Linked DNA regions of Homo sapiens: region 1 is linked to region 2. A link means that fine-mapping ties the variant in region 2 to the expression of a gene that starts in the linked region. Tissue or cell type: whole blood. Region 2 holds a variant in brackets; the other region holds the start of a gene. All regions are shown on one strand. Distances are from middle to middle.

Region 1 (8,164 bases), 49 kb before region 2:
TTTTTAAAATGTATTACTGTCATTATTATAATTAGTTTACTTATTGTTCCCCCAGATATTTTTTCAACAATGTTCTGCTAAATCTAGAGTGGCTGCTTGCTAATAGAACTTTAGCTTTTTCACAAAGCTTCCAATGTGGGAATCTAATCCATTGTCAAAAGTAGTGGCCAAAATGTCCCTACTCATTGTGGCTGTGATACAGGTGTATTGTAAAAAGATGTGATTCACACACCATTGGGGATCTCTAAGCACACCTCCATGTTATTTAGAATTTTTATTTTGGCCCAAATATCTACAAGGTAGTGGGGAGTTATGTGAGTTTCTTAGGCCATGACAACTTGCCAGCTTTAATACCTTCAGATGAGGATGGGTTACCAGCCAGCTTGGGCCCATTTTGTAGTACCCATCCAGGACAGACATACTGGTCAGGGGCAGAAATATAACAATTCAGTGGGAAAGCTGATATGGTTGGCTGAGGTGATACATTTCATGCATTTGTGTGAATACTTCCTCCTGAAGATTTGATGATTCTGGAATGGTTTGGAGACGACTTCAAAAATAACATGTTTAGTAAAAGGGAACTGTAGGACACTGAAGAACCACTGCTCAAGACCCAACATAGTCAGCTACTGGTGATAACCATTTCAGTACTTTGTTGGCTAGGACCTAGAAGTTGGGAAGACATTTATGAGAGATTATCAAAAAGGGAGAAGCTGTTGGAATCCTTATACTGTTTCATAATCAGAATTGTTGTAAGGTGACCTAGTTCTTGATAATTATCTTTAGAAAAGCAAGGGTACAGGTTAACAGAGGGGGATTTATAGGATAAGAACAGAAGGGCAGGGCAAAATCTATGTTCACAAATAGACCGACTCTCCTTGTCTTGTTGACATAGTAATCAAAAAGGGAGACCACTGAAAATTTTTGCGTATTCAAAATTATTGAAAATTTTGTCTTCCTTTTATTTTAGGGCTTGTTAAGAAAAAACATGACCCAAAATTTGGAAATAAGGCAAAAATATTACTGCCTACCTTTTCAAAGATACTGCACTAAAGAAAGCACTGTCCCACAGGACTGCCCAAGGGTTATCCAAGTCTGGGTAGCAAGGGGTCGTCTGATTCAGGCACTACCCTGAGCGGAAAACAATGGCCCAAGACCTCGACCAAACCCAGCTCTCCACCTGTTTTTGTACAGCTTTGAACTGAGAATGCTTTTTTACAATCTTAAGTGGTTGAGAAAATATCAAAAGTAGAATAATATTTTGTCACATGTAAGTTTACATGAAATTCAAACTTTAGAAGAATTTCCTCTTCACAGACATCACATCTTCAAGAGCAAATGCTTGAGCCCTAACCTGCAAGTTATAGTAGAAAAGTCCAGAAGTCCAGCCTGGTCCTCGCCAAGTTTCCAACTCCTATGCCTAGGGGTATTTTATGCTTACAGGATCTAACTTGGTTACAACGTCTAACTTTTAGCAGAGAGGCAGTGCTGAGTAGAAACTGGACTTGTTAACCATATCAAGTCACTTAAGTTGGCTAGGATCCCCTACTTAGGTAGCGGCCATAAAGCCTAGGGCATCCCTGTGCCCTCAATGGTTCACTTCTGAGTGGTGGGCTTCCTGCTCCTCAATAGAGCAATCGGCAGAAAGGCCCCTAGAAAGCTACATTGTCTTCATCCGCGAAGGATTCCCTGTCTCCTATTCCTCAAAGGAGCACCCGGATTCTACTTTCATTCTTCTTTTGCCATTGCATTTTATAACTTAAAAGAAATAGATGATTGTAACAGAAGAAAGAAAACTTTACATTGTGAGAAAATTTAGACCTAAAGCTTATAGTAATGTGAGGACGAAAGTCTATACTGTTTAAGTAAATAGGTTCTATGAGCAGCATCCAGGCTAACATCACACAGTGGTATTTTGAATTAAATTGTACTTGTGTTTTGTTTCCGTGTTTTGCTGCTGTAAGGAAAGAGGAAAGCATCCCCTTTCTCGGCCCTCCTCCCACGTCCAGGCTAATTTGCAGCATTTCTACATCTCAGAGTCCACCCTTAAGATCCTTGCCACCCATTATTTTGTTTCAGAACGCTTAATCCATCAAGGAAGGTTAAATTGGATTACCCCAGTAGGGAAGGGACGGGGGCTGTAAGCATGAGGGATTATCCCTGTAAAGGGCTCGTGGTGTGTGTGTGTGTGCGTCCTGCTAGTGTTGAATGACGGAGACCTGAGTTTGGATTCTGAATCCAGGTGTATTCGATGCCGCTCCGGCGTAGAACGGGTTAAAGATGCCCCCAGCCAGGTAGAGCCAGACTGGGAGTTGTGCAAGGTCTCAACCCCCTAAAAGCGGCCCCTCAAATTGAAGATGAGTAAATCATAGTTCGTAAATCAGAAAGATTATCCAGTACTACGTTACTCTGTTTATTTCCCTTTCGTCATCCCTGAGTCTTGGGTCAAGTCCATCCCAGCTCTGTCCTCCAGGAATCAAGGGAAATACGCAAACCCGCGGTGGGTTCGCAGCCGCAGGAAGGACAAATCTTGCCCCCGCCGCGGCGGCCGCCCCGCGTTAGCTGCCTAAGAGAATCTCCGTGGCCGGCCAGTACCCGCCTTGGTGAGGATTCTCCCTCCCGCGAGAACTTCTGGAATGCCGCCGGGCCAGATTTTGCAGCTGAGGCCTCCGACGCCACTAATATTGGGCCAAGCAGGGAGTGCTGCTCTTCCTTATAAGGTTTTAGCGAAAGTTAAGTAAGCCAATTAAAGTGCAAAACACACAGTCTGGAACAATACAGCGCTCTATAAATGGTCTCCATTATTATCATTATCCGTTAGTTATAACTGGGGATAAAAAAAAAAAAAAAACGACAAAAACCTGGAGAACCGGAAAGGTCTGCAAAAGGGGCGGAACGCGGGAACTTCGATTTGGGGAAGGGGTGGCGGGGGAGATCCCACACAAGCAGCCAATCCAGCTGTCCCGGGGAGGAAGAGGAGGAGTCAAGGCCCGCCCCTGGTCTCCGCACTGCTCACTCCCGCGCAGTGAGGTTGGCACAGCCACCGCTCTGTGGCTCGCTTGGTTCCCTTAGTCCCGAGCGCTCGCCCACTGCAGATTCCTTTCCCGTGCAGACATGGCCTCTGGCACCACCACCACCGCCGTGAAGGTGAGATGAGCCCTCCCAGCCGCAGCGGTTCGCCCTGCCGGATGCCTTCTCGCCCCCGCGCCGGGGGACCGCGCCTCCGGGGGCCATGCGCCCGGCCCGTGCGTCCCTTGCCGCCGCGGGGAGGGACTGGGGCGCGGCACTCGGGACTCACTTGCCGCGCGAGGAGAGGGTACGCTTGCAAATGATCCCCCTGCCGCACCGCCAACACACACACACACACACACACACACACACACACACACACACACACACACACCACCTTTTGGCTTATCTGCACCCGCACCCTGTAGGGCGTAGGCACCCCTTTAGAGAGAGAGGTCGTGGATGGGAGAGGCTGCACCCATGCCACCACCATTCCTGAGAACCACTCTTCTTCCAAGAAAGACACCCGGCTGGAGTCAGGAGGTGTCCGGGCGCCTGCAGCTTCTGTGACCGTCTCCTGGTGCCTTGCGGGACTCCAGCTTCCGCTCTCTGACTCTGCTTGTTGCCTGCGGCCCACGTGGGAGAACTGCTTACTTGCTCTTTTGTATGCTTCCGGCTTCTTTTTCCTCCAAACGTAGGCCTTCTCCGCGCTGAAGTTTTCCCCAGCAGCGTAATACTGTAAGAATTCTGAGACTTTCTTCGAAAAGGAGTACAGGCGTCCGTTTTTAGGGCTGCACTGTTTGGAGGCCTCTGGCTTGAAACTGCTTTGTTTTGCAGCCTTGCAAGTTAGAGTTCAATTTCCTTGTGCCCTAGGCCCTGAGAGGCCTTGATACAAGGGGTCATTGTGCGGTGGGAAGCTTTGTGCTGAGGAGGGCACGAGTTCTGAGAGTAGCAGCTGGCTTCCCTGGGGTTTTAAACACTTCTCTCCTGGTTAGTATTCCGAGAGAGAATTACAGCACGTAAAGAAAAATTGATGATAAAACTTAAGACCTCTTCTAGGCAGTTTATTACTGGCTAAGAATGCGTTCTTGTTTGATTTTTAGAAATTTTTGGCCTATGGGATAGGAAGGTCTGCGATCTTCTCCAAAGCATCTCGATTCCCTACACTCGACTGCAGTTTTCCCGGGAGAAGGCGAATTTCTGCGGTCAGTGTGTAATCAGCCAGATTAGTTTATTACGCCCTTGCAGGTTTAAATGAGCCACTTAGAATGAGAGGAATGGTGAAGGGTGTTGCATCCAGACTTATATATGAAACTTATTTTGTCATTTTGAAAAGAATCTTGCATCCAGCAAATATTTATAGAAGGCCTCTCCCCTGCCTTCATTGTTTGGCGGAAACAAGGCAGAAATGGTTTTCATGAAACTCGTGTGAAGTATGTGACTTCTCTTAGGTGCTCATCTATAAACTGAGAATTTTACTGCAGAATTTGCTAGGAGGGCTAGAATTATATTGTCTATGTTGCACATGGTAGAAGCTTATTAAGTGGTAGTGCTTATAAGTGGGGGAACTGAGATTAATTTTGAATGATCTTTTCCCCAAAAATTATTAAGTTATTGTGTTAGGTATCATTAGGCCACAACTTTTCACCTTATCCTTGCAGGAATACACTTCAAGCGCCATTAAAAATGGAGAAATGGTGTTTAAAACAGTCTTACTTTAATCTGGTTAGCATTCTCCCTGCCACAGGGTTTCCCTTCAAATTAATGCAGTGCATTTAAGTGCAGAATGGGCAATGGGATTCTCAGAGACCTGATGTAAATATTGAATAGTGTGTATTTTTGGTCTTGGCAAGCTTCTGGATATAAAATTAAGAGGTACATATGGTGCTAGGACTGCCTGCTGATTTCTCTTTTAATTTAGAACAGATGACAGCTTTGCCGTAGAGATTCCATGATGCCAGCACCGTATTCCCCAGACTTCTAAGGCAACATTCTGTATAGAAGATGTGAGGTGCCAGTGTCCAGAGCAAAATAGGTTAATAAAAACCACATCCTATTCCCAAATTATAGAATGATGGGGCTGGAGTGTTCCTTCAAGACCATCCATATAGCCACACAAACCCGTTTTGCGGGTGTAAAGTTGAGGCCCAGAAAGGTCAGCTAAGTATCCAGAATTACACAGCTGGACCTAGATAATGACAGAATTGGGCCTAGAGCCTGGCATTCCACCAACTAGATGTGAGGCATTTCTGAAATCTGAAGTGTGGTCTCTGCCCTGTTTTCTTGTGACCTAATGCACAATTAAAATGAGCACTTGATAGAATGTCCATCTTGAAGAGGGAGGCAGAGGGTATGCAGAAAGCAGGCTGCCTCCAGTGCCCACTGCACACCACCCAGGTATAGGTATAGGAGGCACATGTGTGTCTGAACCCCATTGGTGTCACTGGCAGGTCCTTTGAGAGGTTGCTGGATTTAAATACAGTAACATGTAACACACTCAGCCCAGTTCCAGGTACTCCTTTAATGTCAGCCCAAGTACCTCTCTTCTTAAAATAGAGATATTAACGGGGTGGATCTTAAATTCATTCTCAATTTTAGAGGTGCAGTTAACTCATGCAAGTGAAAGATTCCACTGAGTTTTGGATTGGCAGTATATTTGGCATATCTTTCAAATCTAGCCATCTACTGGTGGAATCCTATTCAAAAATATTTATTGAATACCTGCTAGACAATGGGGATGCAGCTTTGAGTAAGCGAGGCCTTTATTTATTTTCTTCAAGTTTATATTCTAGTCAGGGTGGGAAACCAACTGACATGAAAGTGAAACAGCAGTAAGATTCCATTGGGTGAGGGGTGTCAGAAAAGACTCCTAGGGAGGTGGATTTTAAGCTGTGCAGTAGTCTGCCTCCAAAATCTGTATGTTGAAACCTAATCGCCAATGTGATGGTATTAGAAGATGGGGCCTTTGGGCGTGATTGGGGTCATAAAGGTGGAGCCCTCATGAATGGAAGCAGTGCCCTTACAAAAGAGGCCCCAGAGAGCTGCCTTATTCCCTCTACTAAGTGAGAGGACACCATCTATGAGCCAAAACGTGGGCCTTCCTCAGACACTGAATCTGCTGTGACCTTGAACTTGCTAAGCCTCCAGACTATGAGAAATTTCTGCTGTTTATAAGCCACCCAGTCCTAAGATATTTTGTTATAGCAGCCTGAATGGACTTAAGCTGATAGTGAAAATAGGGATAAAGGGTAAAGATCCAAGTGAAGACCTGAGGAGAGAGATGGGGGTAGGAGAGCGAAAACCAAGATGTCGCAGAAGTGAGCTCAGTGTGGTAGGAATGGAAATCACGGATGCACAGTGAGAATTGGGTGGATGCAGCTCATAAGGCCATCCTTGTAGACCGCGATCAAGAATTTTGATTTTAAATGTTTTGGAAACTGTTGAAGGGTTAAGAGTGGGAGGCAGCATTTGATTTACATTTTAAAATGATTACTCTGGCTGTTGTATACAGAATAGCCTGTGGGCAGGGGAAGAGCTAAGAGATCAGGCCAGAAGTCTTGGTGCTGGGGCTGAAGTCTAGGGTGGGAGCCATGGAGGTGGTGAGGAATAATCAGATTGGGGATAGAATTTGCAGGTAGAACACAGAGATGGATAAGATGTGGGGAGTGCAGGAAGAAGAACAGGATGATTTCTGCTTTTGACCTGGAAAACCAAAAAGATGATGATACTGGTGGATCATTTCAAAGTGGGCGATAAGGGGCCACGAGTGACTCCTTGGAGCCAAGGAGGGTGAGTGTAGGATTCCTTCCTCCCAGATACTGCTGGTTAGGGGGCCAGAGGCTGGGATGCTGAGGGGCCTCTTTGCTGTAGGAGCAGAGTGGGTGGCAGGTTGAGGGAGGGAGGAAGCCACCTGGAGTGAGAGTAATTCAAGCAATCTTTTTTGTGGTTCACTGCAGTGAGAGATGGTCCAGGCAGGGAGTGAGGATATTACCTGGGGGGTAGCCATGGAGAGAGGCAGCAGGAGCCAGAGGCTATGGGATTAACACTGCCATTGTCTGAGAGGACCTCAGGGAGACATTGTCCTCCAGCATCAGCCAAGGGCAGGTGGTATTCCTGACAGAGGGCCAAACCAGTCTTTGGCACCCAGATACAGGGCATTCTGGAGGGCTCCTGCAGTGTACCATGGCTCCCCTGGGCAGCCTCCCAGCTTTCATTCTGGGAGATTAAAAATAAGACTTGGCCAGGCGCGGTGGCTCATGCCTGTAATCCCAACACTTTGGGAGGCCCAGCTGGGCAGATTACCTGAGCTCAGAAGTTCAAGACCAGCCTGGGCAACATGGTGAAACCCCATTTCTACAAAAAATACAAAAATTAGCCAGGCACGGTGCTGCACGCATGTAATCCCAGCTACTCAGGAGGCCAAGGTGGGCGAATCTCTTGAGCCCAGGAGGCAGAGGTTGCAGTGAGCAGAGACTGCGCCATTGCACTCCAGCCTGGGCGACAGAGTAAGATCCTGTCTCAAAATAATAATAATAATAACAACAACTTGTTAATCATGGTTGCTGTGACAAGGAGGGGATATGGTCCCATTGTAGGTTGGTAGTGAGCTATCAACATAATGATATTAAGGGAGATGGACAAGTCATGGTTTGTAGACTGTGGAATATGGGCCTTTACACTCCCTGCTTTGCTGTCTTGAGTGTGGCCTGCAAGGGCCTTCAGCCTGAGAGTCCTTGTGTGGCTATCTGAAACTGAGGACAACCTGCAGGCCCCAGTTGAAAATCACATGACCAACAAGCCTTCATTTTTTTTGCCTAGGGACACAAGGGCATTTTGGGCAGGACAATTATTTCTTTTGTAGGACTGTCCCAAGCATTGCAGGACATGGAGTACAACCCTTAACCTCCTCCACAGAAATGCCAGTAGCACTCCCCCTAGTCATGACAGCCAGAAATAGCCCTGTTTCCAGATACCCCCAGGAGAGCTGTTTGACATTTAGTTGAGGACCCCAAGGCTAAATCCCAAAAAAGACTACCTGCTGAAGAGAGGTAGGAGCAGCCAGGTTTTGTACTGCTCAGCAGAGTAAAAGGAGGAAATAAGGGCTTTTTTTGTTGCTTTGAGGAAGTTTATTTTGATTTTTTATTTTTGCCAGGAG
Region 2 (8,203 bases):
GGCAATCAGAACAGTCTGACTCGTGTAAAGCTCTGGCACTGGCTAATTAATCACAGCATTCCTAGAAGTAAAATTCATAGGAGGCCTACTGCATTCCTACTTAATTTACATAAGCAGAAACTTCTAGGTCAAATGGACAAAAAACTAATTTGAATTATAAAAACAGACTCACAGCCCCTCAACCAATTTCCAGACTTGAGCTAGTTTACAGACCCAGAACCCCTTGAATGAAGGGGAGGCCAGGTCCCGTTGAGGAAGGACCCCACTATATTACCAACAATTTATGCTGTGAATCTTTCTCCCGTCCTTCCCCAAGGAGACCTCCGACCTTTTACCAGGGTAACTGTGCACTGGGGAAAGGGAAATAATCAGACATTTCAGGGACTACTGGACACTGGCTCTGAGCTGATGTTGATTCCAGGGAACCCAAACTGTCATGTGGTCCTCCAGTTAAAGTAGGGGCTTATGAAAGTCAGGTAATTAATGGAGTTTTAGCTCAGGTCTGACGTGCAGTGGGTCTTATGGGTGCCTGGACTCATCCTGTGGTCATTTCCCCAGTGCCAGAATGCATAACTGGCATAGACATACTTAGCAGCTGGCAGAACCCCCACACTGGCTCCCTGACTGGTAAAGTGATGGCTATTACAGTGGGAAAGGCCAGATGGAAGCCATTCGAGCTGCCTCTACCTAGAAAAATAGTAAAGCAAAAACAATACCACATCCCTGGAGGGATTGCAGAGATTAGTACCACCATTAAAGACTTGAAAGACGCAGGGATGGTGATTCCTACCACATCCCCATTTATCTCTCCCATTTGGCCCATACAGAAGACAGATGGGTCTTGGGGAGAATGACAGTGGATTACAATAAGCTGAACCAAGTGGTGACTCCAATTGCAGCTGTTGTACCAGATGTGATTTCATTGCTTGAGCAAATTAACACATCTCCTGGTACCTGGTATGCAGCCATTGACTTGGAAAATGCCTTTTTCTCTATATCTGTCCATAAGGACCACCAGAAGCAATTTGCCTTCAGCTGGCAAGGCCAGCAGTATACCTTGACTGTCCTACCTCAAGGGTATATCAACTCTTCAGTTTTGTGTCATAATCTTATTCAGAGAGAACTTGATCGCTTTTTGCTCCCACAAGATATCACAATGGTCCATTACATTGATGACAGTACGCTGATTGGATCCAGTGAGCAAGAAGTGGCAAACACACCAGACTTATTGGTGAGGCATTTGCATGCCAGAGGATGAGAAATAAATCTGACTAAAATTCAGGGACCTTCTACCTCAGTAAAATTTCTAGGGGGTCCAGTGGTGTGGGGCCTGTGGAGATACTCCTTCTAAGGTGAAGGATAAGTTGCTGCATTTGTCCTCTCCTGCAACCAAGAAAGAGGCACAATGCCTAGTGAGCCTATTTGGATTTTGGAGGCAACACATTCTTCATTTGAGTGTGTTACTCTGGCCCATCTATTGAGTGACCCAAAAGGGTGCCAATTTTGAGTGGGTCCAGAACAGGAGAAGGCTCTGCAACAGTTCCAGGCTGCTGTGCAAACTGCTGTGCCATTTGGGCCATATGACCCAGCAAATCCAATGGTCCTTGAGGTGTCAGTGGCAGATAAGGATGCTGTTTGGAGCCTTTGGCAGGCCCCCATAGGTGAATTACAGTGGAGCCCTCTAGGATTTTGGAGCAAGGTCCTGCCATCTTCTGCAGATAACTATTCTCCTTTCGAGAGACTGTCCTTGGCCTGTTACTGGACTTTGGTGGAAAGTGAACTTTTGACTATGGGTCATCAAGTCACCATGCGACCTGAACTGCCTATCATGAACTGGGGGCTTTCTGACTCATCTAGCCATAAAGTGGGTTGTGCACAGCAGCATTCAGTTATCAAATGGAAATGGTATATATATGACTGGGCTCAAGCAGGTCCTGAAGGCACTTTGCTGTGCCCGTGCATGGCCTCCATCCTTGCCACCTGGACACTTTGGGCTCCTCCTGCCTTTAAGTCAACAGGCTAAGAAGGGAGTTACAGTGCTGGCTGGGGTGATTGACCCAGACTATCAAGATGAAATCAGTCTACTACTCCACAATGGAAGTAAAGAAGAGTACACATGGAATACAGGAGATCCATTAGGGTGTCTCTTAGTATTACCATGCCCTGTAATTAAGGTCATTGGGAAACTACAACAGCCCAATCCAGGCAGGACTACAAATGACCCAGACTCTTCAGGAATGAAGATTTCAGTCACTCCACAAGGAAAAAACCACAACCTACTGAGGTCCTTGATAAAGGCAAAGGGAATACAGAATGGGTAGTAGAAGAAGGTAGTCATCGATACCAGCTACAACCATGTGACCAGCTACAGAAATGAGGACTGTAATTGTCATGAGTATTTCCTCCTCCTTTTGTTAAAAACATGTTTGTGCATATATACAGTTGTACTAAGAAAATATCTTCATTGTATTTTCTTTCTCCTTTATCATATGACATGAGATTTATTGACTTCACATCAACATTTAAGTATTGCTAACTTTATGTAGTAGTATTTGGGTTGGTGTTTGGTGCATTTCCAGTTGCACAAAGGATAGCTGTATTATGTTACGTGTAATTATGACCTTATTATTGTCTTTATTTGAAGATTATGTATGATCTCAGGAGATGTGTATGGATTCATGTGGACTTGTGATGGTTAACACTGAGTGTTAACTTGATTGGATTGAAGGATACAAAGTATTGATCCTGGGTGTGTCTGTGAGGGTGTTGCCAAAGGAGATTGACATTTGAGTCAGTGGGCTGGGAAAGGCTGACCTAGCCTTAATCTGGGTGGGTACAATCTAATCAGCTGCCAGCATGGCTAGGATATAAGCAGGCAGAAAATTGTTAAAAGAGAGACTAGCCTAGTCCCCCAGTCTACATCTTTCTCCCATGCTGGATGCTTCCTGCCCTCCAACATCAAACTCCAAGTTCTTCAGTTTTGGAACTTGGACTGTCTCTCCTTGCTCCTCAGCCTGCAGATGGCCCATTGTGGGACCTTGTGATCATGTGAGTTAATACTTAATAAACTCCCCTTTATTAGTTATGTCCCTCTAGAGAACTCTGACTAATACAATGGAATACTACTTAGCCATAAAAAAGAACAAAATGATGGCATTTGCAGCAACCTGGATGGAGTTGGAGACCATTATTCTCAGTGAAGTAACTCGGGAATGGAAAACTAAATATCGTTATGTCCTCATTTGTAAGTGGGAGCTAAGCTATGGGGATGCAAAGGCATAAGAATGATATAATAGGGCCGGGCGCAGTGGCTCATGCCTATAATCCCAGCACTTTGGGAGGCCGAGGTGGGTGGATCACAAGGTCAGGAGTTCAAGACCAGCCTGGCCAAGATGGTGAAAGGGGTCTCTACTAAAATACAAAGAAAAGAATTAGCTGGCCGTGGTGGCGGGTGCCTGTAATCCCAGCTAATCAGGAGGCTGAGCCAGAGAACTGCTTGAACCCGTGAGGCAGAGGTTGCAGTGAGCCAAGATCGCACTAATGCATTCCAGCGTGGGCGACAGAGTGAGACTCCATCTCAAAAAAAAAAAAAAAAATGATGTAATGGACTTTGGGGCCTCTGGGGGAAGTGGGAGAGGAGAATCAGGGATAAAAGACTACACATTGGGTATAGTGTACATTTCTTGGGTGACAGGTGCATCAGAATCCCAGAAATCACTACTAAAGAACTTATATACATCACAATAAACCACTTGCTCCCCAAAAACTATTGAAATGAAAAAAAAAAAAAAGCCTGGTAATAATGGTTTCCCTTGGGAAGGGACAGTGGTTTTCCTTGTACTATTTAAGTTTTGTACCATGTACAAATACGTGTTCCAAAAGCAGTGTTACTTCTATTCATTTTAGGAGTTAATATGAAAGTCCTGACATTAAATCTGTTTAGGCTGGTGATCTAATATTGCTAGTTCCTTGGTGAGGGTTGTGGTACTTTCACTACCACATCCGTCTGTTTAGTAGTTCAGTGATTACACGAGGTAAGAAAATGAAATCATCTTAAACTCAGACCTGGACCTTGACCCTGTATTTGATATTTTTTGCTGCCTTAAGATAGTGTTAGCTGTTCTTGAAGGAATGCAAAATGCTGGTTCAGGTGGCTGACATATATTCATAGCCTCCATTTCTTCCTCCTCCTCATAAGCATGGTACCTATCTCCCAAAGTGCCAGAGTGACAGTGAGGACTTGTCAAGAGCCATTCATCTCTAGAAGCACTGTGAACTTTAGCCAAGCATATGGTTCAGTTATTCAGGATCTTTAAAGACATTATTGAACCAGC[G/A]GGAGTGGGCTTGTTATGTCTTAACTTTAGGGGGGAAAAGGGGGTGGGGTAGAGATTTAGGCTTTTGCATTTATAACATATACTTTTTAGGGAAAAGTGTTAATTAAGCATAATTTTATTTTCAGCATTTATAAGATAAACATGATGTAGCATCAACTGTTCATTGTCCATAGCTTGCTAAATTTTGAGTTGCCAAGACTCTTGTGAAAATTCTGTTTCCCATTGCAGTGGCATAGTGTAAGTTATTTTTTAAGGAAATAGGTTAATTTGTTTATGTGATGAACACATGTGCAGGTGAGACTTTGCCCAGATTGGAGACTTTGACTTTGAGTCACTCCACTTTATTTATATAGTATCCCAGGAAGGTTAGCCAAATATGTGTAGAAGCTGCCAGTATTAATGATTGTTAGAAGACCAGCTTAGTGCATACAGTGTTTACAGCGCACCTGGCATGCTTCTATGCTTGTATATACCTTAGTTCATTTAATCTTCCTCATACAATTGAATTATGCGATATCATTATTCTCAATTTACACTTGAGAAAACTAAGGCATACAGAGATGATTTTTCAACAGTGCTTCAGTAAGTTAACAGTTAAGTTGAAAAGACTTTTTTTTAATTAAAAGGGAATATTGAATAAGCTAAGAAAAAATGAAGGTAATTAATAACTTGAAGATTAGATGTGCAGTATTAAATAAAACACTGGAGAAAAGGATCGAACTTTTCAATGATGTTTCTAAAAATCCATGCCTAGCCTTGCCACTAAAGGAATTCCAAGATGTTTATCCCTGTGAACAGAAAAACAATCAGCACAACTCTGTGGAAAGGCAATAGGCAAAAGAGAAATCACTTTCTAACCAGCAAAAGCTTTTACAGAAGTCTTCAGATTCTGTATTTTTAAAAGTAATGAGAATTAACTTTTCAGAAGCCTGGAAATAGAACTCAACACACCTGTTTGAGAAGATAAGCGACGAGAGGCACCTTAGCTTAGCCTGCGAGGTTAAAAGTTAAGACTCCAGTCTGTATTCTCAAACCAGCTTAGTCTCTTAAAGTTGTTAAGAAGCAAATGAGATTAAAGCATATAAACAAATGCCTGGCGAGTAGAAAGAGCTCAGTGCTTGCTTGTGTAGCTATTAGTTTCTACATGCAAAGGGCTGGGGAAACAGGATTATGTGAATGAGAAAGGGTCCAGGAAACACCCTTCTGTGGTCCTCTAGGTTTTTTCTGAGAGCCTGGCAGATAGTAGGCATTTATTATAGTGACAAATCATCTTTAAGAAATCAACTTGGTAAACATTGGGGGGAAGTGCAGCCTTAAGTTGTGCATGTGCTAGTATGTTTTGAAGTTTCTGGTTTTTCTTTTCTAGGTTCTTATAGAGACTGCTAAGAAGCTAGGACTCCGGTGCCACTCAAAGGGGACAATGGTCACAATCGAGGGACCTCGTTTTAGCTCCCGGGCAGAAAGCTTCATGTTCCGCACCTGGGGGGCGGATGTTATCAACATGACCACAGTTCCAGAGGTGGTTCTTGCTAAGGAGGCTGGAATTTGTTACGCAAGTATCGCCATGGCGACAGATTATGACTGCTGGAAGGAGCACGAGGAAGCAGTAGGTGGAATTCTTTTCTAAGCACATATAGCATGGGTTTCTGGGTGCCAATAGGGTGTCTTAACTGTTTGTTTCTATTACGTTAGTTTCAGAAAGTGCCTTTCTACAAGGTTTTGAAGTTGTTAATATTTTCTGTAGTTCCATTGGAAGGTAAGAACAAAGATCAAAGGAAAGAAAGAGACACTTTTACCCAAGGATCAGTAGTGAAAATAGTACATTGTAGGCAGGTAGATGTGTTGAGAATCATACTAAGACTTGGGCCTTATTTTCAGGATAAAGGTGTATTTTGATTGCCAATTTCTGCTGCTATGCTACTGTTTTTTGTTTTCAAGAAGGAAAAAAATCTATTAACCCTTTCCTCATGAGAGGGCTGTATGTTCACATCCATCTATTTAACGTACCGTGGCTGGATACTCTGTTCAGCATAGAAATGTGACAACAAACAGAGAAGTCCTTAAGGAGCCGACATTCTGTCGGATGGAGATAGAAGTTAAGCAAACCAATATAAGAAAGCTAACGGTTATAAAGAAATAGAATGGTGAGGTACAAGGGTACACTAGGTCAACTGAATAGAGTTGACCAGACCAAATATTTGAAGTATGAGAAGCCTTCCTGTTTTAAGTGTGATGGGCAAGAAGGGCATGATTGAGTAGAGTGGAAAGGAGGGAGACTGGGGAGAAGGGAGAGAGAGGAGGGATGCAATACAGTAGGGCCAGGCCATACAGACCATGGTAAGGGTTTCAGATGGAAGGACAGTGAGGGGTTCAGGCAGGGAAGGCAGCAGGATCCAGCTGGAATTTGAGGACACTGGAACAATGAGGTCAGCTTCCAAAACAAAACAAAACAAAACTTTAAACATCTGTGTAAGTACAGGGTGGAATATAATGAATTCCAGGTACCCATCACTTAGGTTCCACAATTAGCCATGGCCAATCTTGTGTGATAGGTATGTCCCTACCTATTTCTCCCCTGCCCTCATTGTGAAGTAAATATTTTCCTAAAAGGTCTTTTTAAAATTAAGTTATAACCATGCCATCATTGTACAAAAATAATGATATTAATTTCTTAATATAATCAAATATTCAGACTATTCCTTTTTCCTTCAGTCTCATAATTTTTAACAATTTGATCAAATCAGAATCCCTTACAATCCATATGTTGTATTTTAATGATTACCTCTTGTCTCTTTTAATCTAATTTTCACCTCTTTCTCTTTTTATTCCTTGTGTTACTTGAATAAACTAGATCGTTCGTCCTGTCATTTATCTCATTTTAAGATAAAGGGACGACAAAACTGCAGTCACTTTTGAAGTAAGGAAAACATTTAGGGGTGACTTTCTGAGCACATTTAGGGTAAGTGACATCTCCAAAGAGGCCTAATATTGTACCACCGTTTTAGAGAGTTTGTTTTACTATCTAATGTGTACAGTGTTTTGGGTCATAGATGAACACAGGTTCTTTGTTTTTCATGAATTCCTTATGATGACTCTTCAGTGTAATAAACTGTTTGCTTAGTACTAGGATGCCTTTTATGTAAGAGATTCGCAAATTATTACATTAAGTCACAACATAATATCTTATTTGGCAGCTTTGGTAACCTAAGGAACAACTCAGCCTCGTAATGTCAAGAAGCTGCTTCCAATTAATAGGAAACTCCAGCCCCTGCCACACCCTGAGAGCGGTTTGCTTCCTGCCTGTGGCTTTCTGCTCAGTCTAATAACATATGTCTCCTCCTTTGTAGAACCAGCAGTGATTTCCTTTAGTAGCCAAATGAGGTTGGGGAAATAGTCAGCTGGAGCTACTTTATTGAAAAGCAGAGAAATTAAGCTCTGTAAGTGGAAAGGCTTGAAGACAGTGTTAAATGCTACAAGGAAGGCCCACAGAAAGATGGCATTATTTCAGCCAATCGTGTGTTGCAGCCTGGCATGGCAAAAAGGATTTGGAGTTCTCTAAACCCATCTTCAGATTTGAGTTGCTCCATTTGCTTGTCACATTGGGCGAGTTATTTCACTTGTTTACTCTTCTGTAGAATGAAGCCAGGGCTCTGGGTGAGGAGTGGAGGTTGTTTAGTCATTGTTTAGTCAGTTAGACCTTGAAAGATTACTGGAAGAATTAAACCAAATGAGATATGTAAAAAAGCTAGTATAATGCTGGCTTGTAAGAGGGTGGTCATCAGATGGTGGCTCTGATGGAGTGGGGGGCCTGAGAGGTGGGTAGTATCAGGGAAAAGCATTTAAACTGCACCTTGAAGAGAGGGTTTATT

Evidence for each region. PIP is the estimated chance that this variant, and not a neighbour inherited with it, causes the effect.
Region 1: MTAP starts here. The variant in region 2 is fine-mapped to the expression of MTAP in whole blood (TOPMed, PIP above 0.99).

The regions. Positions count from the first base shown.
Region 1 is chr9:21,799,635-21,807,798 of GRCh38, forward strand. MTAP (methylthioadenosine phosphorylase) reads left to right here and starts at 3,002. Exons shown (of 8, transcript NM_002451.4): 1 at 3,002-3,147. The coding sequence starts at 3,115. RefSeq lists enhancers at 1,881-2,511, 2,512-3,140, 3,635-3,844, 5,503-5,647, a silencer at 3,185-3,344 and a cis regulatory region at 5,575-5,576.
Region 2 is chr9:21,848,931-21,857,133 of GRCh38, forward strand. It overlaps MTAP (methylthioadenosine phosphorylase), which reads left to right. Exons shown (of 8, transcript NM_002451.4): 6 at 5,701-5,940. Among named protein-coding and RNA genes, the nearest start is that of MTAP, 50 kb to the left of the region's middle. The variant G/A (reference allele first, on the strand shown) is at 4,335.